Linked DNA regions of Homo sapiens: all the other regions are linked to region 3. Evidence: fine-mapped expression QTL. A gene starts in region 3. Each other region holds a variant in brackets. All regions are shown on one strand. Distances are from middle to middle.

Evidence for each region. PIP is the estimated chance that this variant, and not a neighbour inherited with it, causes the effect.
Region 1: its variant is fine-mapped to the expression of ISM1 in whole blood (TOPMed, PIP above 0.99).
Region 2: its variant is fine-mapped to the expression of ISM1 in whole blood (INTERVAL, PIP above 0.99).

The regions. Positions count from the first base shown.
Region 1 is chr20:13,252,985-13,255,784 of GRCh38, forward strand. The region is part of intron 1 of ISM1 (isthmin 1); the gene reads left to right. It also overlaps a transcript of TASP1 not described here. Among named protein-coding and RNA genes, the nearest start is that of ISM1-AS1, 15 kb to the left of the region's middle. The variant T/C (reference allele first, on the strand shown) is at 1,526.
Region 2 is chr20:13,260,495-13,263,140 of GRCh38, forward strand. All of the region lies in intron 1 of ISM1 (isthmin 1), which reads left to right. It also overlaps a transcript of TASP1 not described here. Among named protein-coding and RNA genes, the nearest start is that of ISM1-AS1, 22 kb to the left of the region's middle. RefSeq lists a silencer at 1,628-1,922. The variant A/G (reference allele first, on the strand shown) is at 1,187.
Region 3 is chr20:13,219,958-13,222,757 of GRCh38, forward strand. It overlaps ISM1 (isthmin 1), which reads left to right and starts at 1,317. Exons shown (of 6, transcript NM_080826.2): 1 at 1,317-1,957. The coding sequence starts at 1,820. It also overlaps a transcript of TASP1 not described here. RefSeq lists silencers at 1,100-1,219, 1,679-1,748.

The DNA of each region.
Region 1 (2,800 bases), 33 kb after region 3:
TTATCTCATCCATTAGCCAATCTGGAACCAACCTGTCCTTCCCCATGGACCTGTGTGGCTTAATTAGAGACAGACACACAGCGAGGGAGAAATCAGTTGGAGGCCTGTTGCTGCTCCATTTGGGGTACTTGCTACCCAAGCAGACCTGGCAAAGCTAGCATTTATTGGCACAGGGAAAAGCAGGAAGGAACCAAGTCTCACAGTTCATCCTCCACCTTCAGGGTTTTTGATCTTCTCACCCTGCGTGTTGATCTCTTATGTCACTTGCTCAGTGTGCAGCTTCCTTCACCCAGGGACCCAGAGGGTGAGGAGCTCTGCCTTCCCTCACGGTGTTATCATAGGGGCATTCCTGAGGAGTGGGTGACCACTCAGAGGGTCTCCCCATGCTGGATGGGAGGCCTTGGAGCTCATTCGCTGTTGATCTGATTGTGCTTTTCCAAGATAAAAGTGCACTCTTTGAGAGCGCTGTGTTTCCTGGAAAGCATCTCCCATTGCCAAAGTACCATTCAGAATGATAGCTCCTTACCGACTATCAGCCACTGTTCCTCACCTTCTCTTGGTGAGAGCAGAGGTTCTCAGATGTGAGCCTGCAGAGAATCGCCAGGAGGCCTTGCTCAAACACCTGCTGCTGGGCCCCACCCCAGAAGCTCTGATTCCACAGGGGATAGGACCCGAGAATCAGCATTTTAAACACATTTCCAGGCGATTCCAACACTGCTGGCCTGGGGCCCCCATTTTGAGAACACATGAATTAAATTAATAACTCAGTATCATTATCAGTTTTTCTGTGAGCTCAGCTAGGAAACAATGGGCTAGTTCAGATATCTTAAAATTTAAAAAAAAGCTAAAATTAAAATAACACATACACATCCATATCCATATATATATATATATGTGTGTGTGTATGTTTATACACACACATAAAAACACACTTATAAATGTGTATTTATGGGCCAGGCACAGTGGCTCATGCCTATAATCCCAGCACCTTGGGAGGCCGAGGTGAGCGGATCACTTGAGGTCAGGAGTTCAAGACCAGCCTGGCCAACATGGCAAAACCCCATCATCTCTACTAAAAAAAAAAAAAAAAAAAAATACAAACATTAGGCATGGTGGTACATGCCTGTAATCCCAGCTACTTGGGAGACTGAGGCAGGAGAATCACTTGAGCCCAGGAGGGGGAGGTTGCAGTGAGCCAAGATCACGTCACTGCACCCCAGCCTGGGCGACAGAGCAAAACTCCATCTCAAAAATAAATAAATAAATAAATAAAGCAAATGTGTATTTATATCTGCAAATATATATTTATATTTATATAACCATATACATATACTTTAAATATGTGTATATATAAGTATAAACAGATGTATATACAAATAGAAAATATTTGAATTCATATTTGACTTTGAAGAAAAGCAAGCAGATTCAGAAAATGTTCAGAATCAGAATTGAATTCAAGAGAGCAAAATACCTGCCCCCCGCATCTCCTGCTGAGCCTCATTTCTGCACCTGCTTCCTAAACCCC[T/C]GCTGCTCTCTGTTGCTTTGCCAGGGCTGCTCCTTGGTGCACTTGCTGGGTGCTCAGTGGTGACTTGGTCACAGGCAGGTGGCAAGAGCTGTTGGTACCTCCAGCACAGTCTCTATATTCTCTCTCTGGGCAAAGGGAGAAGCTGGGCACTACCCATGATATCACTCAGAGGCAGATGACTGTGCCATCCTGTGCCAGGACTCGGGGTCACCACACAGGTAAGGGCCAACACAGGAACAGAGCCAGGGAGAACTTTTCCACCTCTGCCAGAGCTTCTTCTCATCCTTCCACATCCCAGAATCCACACATGGTTCGAGAGATGTAGGAGGAGTCAACTGTGGCCACACTTATTGGGCATTGAAATCCTGTTTGTCATTCCTTCCTTTTCCATCTATTCATTGTCCCTTCCATTCATTCAGAGAGCATTTAGTGAGGTCCTACTCTGTACTGGGCTCTAGGCCAAGTGCTGAGGCACAGAAGTGACAGAACAGACACGGTCCCTGCCTCATGGTTCTGACATCCTGGTAGGGGCCACAACACAGAAGAAAGCCCATAAATAGAATAATTTCAGCTAACAAATACTACAAATTAAATAAGCAGAATGATAGAGGGGAGCTTTTAAAGGGTGGGAAAGAACACTGGTTATATAAGATGATCAGGGAAGTCCTCTCTCTCTGGAGGTGACATTTAAGCTGAGACTTGAAGGATAGAAGAGAGAATGATGGCAACCTGGACTAGGACAGTGGCAGAGGAATTTGAAAAAATGGATAAAATGCTCTTTTTGTTGTTAGCAAGTAATAAGGGACTTGAAGATGTTAACATGGCTAATGTAATTTACCCCATTGTACAGTTGAGTTTACAGTTCAGTCATTATTTGTGTGTGTGTTTTTAGCCAGAAACTGGACAAAAATAAGTAAATGTCTAATAATTTATAGAAAAAGAAAAGAAGTATATATATGGTAGAGAAGTAATGAGGAGCAAGGAGGGATTAACTCTGCTGAAGATCAGGGAAGGTTTACAGAGAAGGCAGTATCTAAATAAGGTTTTAAAGGATGCATAGGAGTTTTCTATGTGGATAAGGGAAGGAAAGACTTTGCAGGTAGAGTAGACAGAAAGAAGTGCGACACTAGGGCATCTATTAGCACTTATAAGCCTCTATATGAATTACAACAAGTCATTCCCTCTGGGAAGACAATATCACTTCCTTCATTCTCAACTTCAGCCATTACTTGCCCCCTCATCAGACATCTTTGCACCATGCACAAATTGTACAAT
Region 2 (2,646 bases), 40 kb after region 3:
TAGTCATTGCAGATAGAATCTACATTTCATGCATTTGTGAACCACTGGATTTTTATTTAATCTCCCCACCCTCAATTTGATGTTTTCAGCATTTGGAATAAAGTGGAGTTTTTTTTTTTTTTGAAGTTAGTGTGAAATAATTTCTCCAGAACAAGTGTCTCTTTAGGATTCCATTCCGAGGAAGTCAGAGCTGAATAGAGTGAGAGGCTTTCTGCAACTCTCATTCTACCTCACCATGGTCATTTCACAGAATAAATAACCAAGGTCCTATATCAGTCAGCTTTTGTTGTGTAACAAACCACACTGGGTTCACTAGCTTAAACCCGCAAGGATTTATTATTTCTCATGACTCTCTGGGTCAGCAGGGTGGCTCTCATAGCCTGGGGAGGCTCAGCCAGGGCTGGATGGTCTAGGACAGTCTCCATCTGAGTGACTGGCCATTGGCAGGCTGGTGAATCTGGTATAAATTATCTCTGCTGCACACGTCTCTCACCATTCAACAGGCTAGCTTGGCCTTCTTCACCGAGTGTTCTCAGCATTCCAAAGAGCAAAAAAAAATAGGCAATCCTAAGGCACAAGTGCTTTTCAAGTCTCTGTTAACTGTTGTCCCTTTGGCCGCAGTAAGAAGCTCAAAGAAGGCCAGGCACAGTGGCTCATGCCCGTAATCCCAGCACTTTGAGAGGCTGAGTTGGGTGGATCACCTGAGGTCAGGAATTCAAGACCAGCCTGGCCAACATAGTAAAACCCCGTCTCTACTAAAAATATAAAAAATTAGCCAGGTGTGGTGGTGGTGGGCACCTGTAATCCCAGCTACTCTGGAGGCTGAGGCAGGAGAATCGCCTGAACCCAGAAGGCAGAGGTTGCAGTGAGCCGAGATCGCGCCATTGCCCTTCAGCCTGGGCAACAAGAGGGAAGAGTGAAACTCTGTCTCAAAAAAAAAAAAAAGAAAAAAGAAGCTCAAAGAGTGTGGAAGCAACTACCTGAGGCGTGGATCTTTAGAGAAAAGAAGAATTTGTGGACATTTTTGCCAACCAGTCTACCATAAGTGCAGAGGTGCAATAACTTACCAAAGCTCACAAAACAGGAAGAGGCAATGCTGGGACCCAGACCCAGACCTTGAAACTCCTGGCCCCAGTCCTTTCCACAGTACCCTGAACCCTTTTCAGGATTCCAAGGTTAACGTCCA[A/G]TGACCTTTGAAACCCATTTTAGAAGTACTTGGAGCAGAGAGATTAGCAATAGGTTTCAATGAGGGTTCTTAACTTTAGTGTTGAGAAGAATCCATCTCCTTAATTAGGATAATAACTTGGCAAGGGTCCCTAGGCCACCCCTACCCCAGACCTCAGCTTCTGAACTCTGCCATCCATGTCCTTTGGCTTAATTTCCAGGTTCTCCCTCTCACCAACAGAACACCAGCCTTGGCCTGGGCCTTATATCCCCTCATTCTATGCAGGGAGACACAGAATCACTGCAGGAGATGTTCGCCTTCTGGTGTCCTGTTCGACACCCGTTCCCTCTGGTCGTAGGAGGACTTAGATACTTGGGCCTTTTAGGTGCACTAATGATCTGGTGCCTCTTCAAATTGGGTCCTGGAAACCGAGTCCTAGACAGTTACCACTCTGTTTTCTTTGCCGGTAATGGAGAAAGCACAACTTGGAAAATCACCAATAATCCACACTCATTAAATATTTGCTCAAAGTTTGACTTAAAGGGGTGGCTGAACTCTAACAGGGCTGAAGAGGAGGGATGGAAGCCCCCTGGTGGCCACTGGTGGCCTGGCCTTTATAGCCCTGAGCTGGTTAGCTGCAGCCTGGAAGGCTGATAGAAAGCCTTGCCCTTAACTGGATGCTGAGGATGGCTGGCCTCACACCACAAGGGCTTTATCAAAGTGGTTCTGGAAAGTATGATTTCTCCATCTCTCTACATTTGCAGGGATGTTTTAGGTGATGTGTGAAGGGTTTGTTTTTCTTTTTCTTTTTTTTTTTGGCCTAACTCACTTTCCACTCGTGTACTCTGCTTCTTACATGTTTTCTTACACTTGAAAGAATAATTTATCCTTCATTTCAGTTCATTCTTTAGCCTAACAGGACATAAAAGAAATCGGTCCTGGAAAAGCTACCACTCTGTTTTCTTTGCCAGCAATGGAGAAAGCACAACTTGAAAAAATTCACCAATAATCTGCACATTTTCAAGATCAAAGCAGTTTACAGAAGTATTCAAGACACACCAGTGAAGTGTTGATCTCCATTTTGTCAGCCGGCCCCAAGAACCTTCAATGAGGAGAGATACACAGGGATGGGTGGCCCCTCCACCTCAAAGCCAGCTCCCTACCCAAATGCAAAGAGTTGCCCATTCTTCATTTCTTCTAAAGCCTGAGATAATAAACGAGGTCACTGCCAAGCCCTAAAGTAAACATCGTTATGATACATTCTGCCGCCATAACTAGGGATTCCTCAGCTATTAGTCAGACCGTGACAGCAGGCTCCATTCCCAAACCAGGACTGAGACCCTCCTGAATTCTTGAGCCCATGATGTACCTGTGTCACTGGCTCTCAGGGCTGTCGTCAGAGTGCCCAGCAAAGACTGAAGCATACGTATGGCCGTTTCCCCTCTGCCAGCAATAGTTCCTAAAGGGGCATTGCACTGTCA
Region 3 (2,800 bases):
GAAAGGGAGGCGTGCCGTCAAGAAAGAGTTGATTATTTATTTAATTTCATTCACCAAGGGAGAATTCGGAGGCTCCATCCCGGAGGCACTGGGGTCCGGGACGCGGGAAAGGCTTGGAAATGTGCGACGCGGCTGTGTGCGAACGCGTGGACTAGGTCTTGGCTCGCTGGGAGGGAAGGGCTGGGCCGGCGCTGGGGAGGAGGAAGGGAGGGAACGGGTAGGAGGAGGGGAAGCGCAGTATAAAAGTCCCGGCCGGACTGAGCGTCCGCTACTCCGAGTCACTTCGGTAAGGCGGGAGCCCGAGCAAGGTCAAGGAGGGAAGTGCGCGGTGCCACGGACCGACACAGTTCGCTCTAGCATCTGACGCTCGGACTCCGCGCCCTCAGCCGGATCCCAGAGCCCTTCCATTCGCCAACCGCCCACTGCAAGGCATGAGCCGCACGCGGGAGCCCGAGGCTGCAGCGCGGTCATGAGGCGGTGGCCCGGGATCGACAGCTGCGCGACGCCAGCCCCCAAATCCCCTCTGGGCGCGGCACCCCCGGGATGAGCCCCCCACAGAGGCAAGCCCACTAGAGCTGAGATTCACTCCGAGTTCCTGAGCGCCTGAGCCGCGGGCACTGCGTCTCTGCAGCTTCCAGCCAACACCTGCGCCCGTGACCAGACGAACGCCTAGAGAGTCGGACTCCCCTCCCTTCCCAGGCTCTACGGGGCGCCGCGGATCCGCGAACAGCCGTGCCCGGCTAGCGGGCGGCCCAGCAAGTGTCAAGACCCTTCGGAACGACACTTTGGCACTCCTCCTCTCCCCCGACTGCTTCAGGCAGGGGTCGCAGGCAGACGCATGGCTTGTCCGGCGCCCCCTCCGTTTTCCATCACTGCAACTCCAGCTCCAGTTTGCCAATAAAGGTTTCTAAAGCAGCCCAGGCACCACCCCACCCACCCACAGCCCCGAGCCTCAGTGTGCACAAGGGCTCTACCCGCGCCCGTCACAGCGACCTCGGCAGCGGGCACTTGGTACAGCCCGGCAGGCTGACGCTGCCGCCGAGGGCGCCCCGGCTACCGCCAAACCGTGACAACCTCGGTGTGCCCGGGGCCCCCATCTGGAACCGGCCCTCCCCGGGACTCCGAGTGCGGGGCGGCGCGGCAGGCGGCCCCGAGGAGCGCGGAGAGTAGTGGAGGTGGCTTGCCGGGTGAGTGGCTCGGGGCGGCGAGGGCGGGGGCGCCAAGCGTGGAGGTAACTCCCGGCCGCAGCTGAAGCCCTCCTACTCCTCCTCCTCCTCCTCCTCCTCCTCCTCCTCCTCCTCCTCCTTCTCCTTCTCCTCCTCCTCCTCCCCGCGCTTCTCTGGCGGCCGCTCCCGCTCCAGCTGCGGCGCCGCGGCCACATCTGGGGCGCCCATGTGCGCTCGGGGGCTCGGCTGCGCCCGCCCCGCCGCCGACCCCGCAGCCCCCTGCCAGCAGGGTGGCCTCCGGCCCGGCCCGGGTCCCGGGCTGTCCCGGGACCCAGTCTCCGTCTCCGCCGCCGCCGCCGCCAGGCAGCGCCGGGGCTTGCTCCGCAGCCGGCTTGGACACCCCCGGCCTCGCGGTGGCTCCGCCGTGGTGCGGCGGCGGCGGCGGCGGCGGCGCCGGCAGCTCCTGCTCCCCCGGCCCCGCACACCCCGCCGCGCCCAGCGCCAGCCCCGCGGGCCCGGGAAGCGGAGCCCTGGCGGGAGCCGAGGCGGGAGCCGCGCTGCCGGGCTCCCGGGCTCCTACTCCTCCTCCCCCGGCGTCACCGCCGCCGCCGCCGGCCGCCGCGCCGGGTCCTAAAGCCGCGCGTCTCAAAAGGATGGTGCGCCTGGCGGCCGAGCTGCTGCTGCTGCTGGGGCTGCTGCTGCTCACGCTGCACATCACCGTGCTGCGCGGCTCGGGAGCCGCCGACGGGCCCGACGCGGCCGCGGGCAACGCCAGCCAAGCCCAGCTGCAGGTGAGTGCGCCGCCGGAGAGGGCCGTGCGCGGCTGCGGGGACGGTTTGTGGGGCGGGGGTGCTGAGCTAGTGCCGGGTGGATGCAGGGAGGCAGGTCCCCTGCCCCACCTAAGAGCAACTGTTTTGGCAGTAGTTTTGCCCGGGCCACTTGACTTAGGCAGAGGCGGAGCGGGGGCACGTGCCTGGAGGCTGCACCCGGCTTCCAGGTCTGCGGGCTGCGCTCCTTCAGTTCTGTCTGTCACGGGTCAGGTGCGGGGTTGGTGGGGAGGTGGGAAGGAGCGAGGTTTGGGATGAGCAGAGGAAGTGTGGAGAATGTGCTTGCTTGGGGGTGCTACCAGTCTTTCGTTGCCCTTCGGAGGCTGAGTAATGTTACTCGAGGCTGGAGGGACGCAAGGAGACTTTATAGGATGATATCCCTGAAGTCTTTGGGAGAAAGAACTCCGGGAGTCTACCCCTTTAGGAAGCAATGCCAAAGGTCAGGACATAATTTCCCAAGGAGAATAGCCAGGCATCCCCTCCTCACCCTCAGGGTTCCCTTGCTTCCAGTGTTCCTCTTCCTCCGGGAGCCTCGCCTGAGGTTCCCCCCTCCCCCCTTGTGCCCCCTTGGTCATGGGGAAGGTGCAGAGTGAAGGCACCGGTAGTGATTTGGGCCAGGGTTACCTGGGGCTTTTAAACTTGTAGCAAAGTCTTTCTCCCAAGGATCTTCCCCGTTGAAGGTCGCTTTAGCAATGGGATTCTGTTTATCCATTTCAACTTCAGGGCAAGGAGAGGGCGTAGTGGACGGTCAGACATAATGTGAGTTCTGACTTAGGAATAGAATTGCCCAGCTAGGCATTTCCTGCC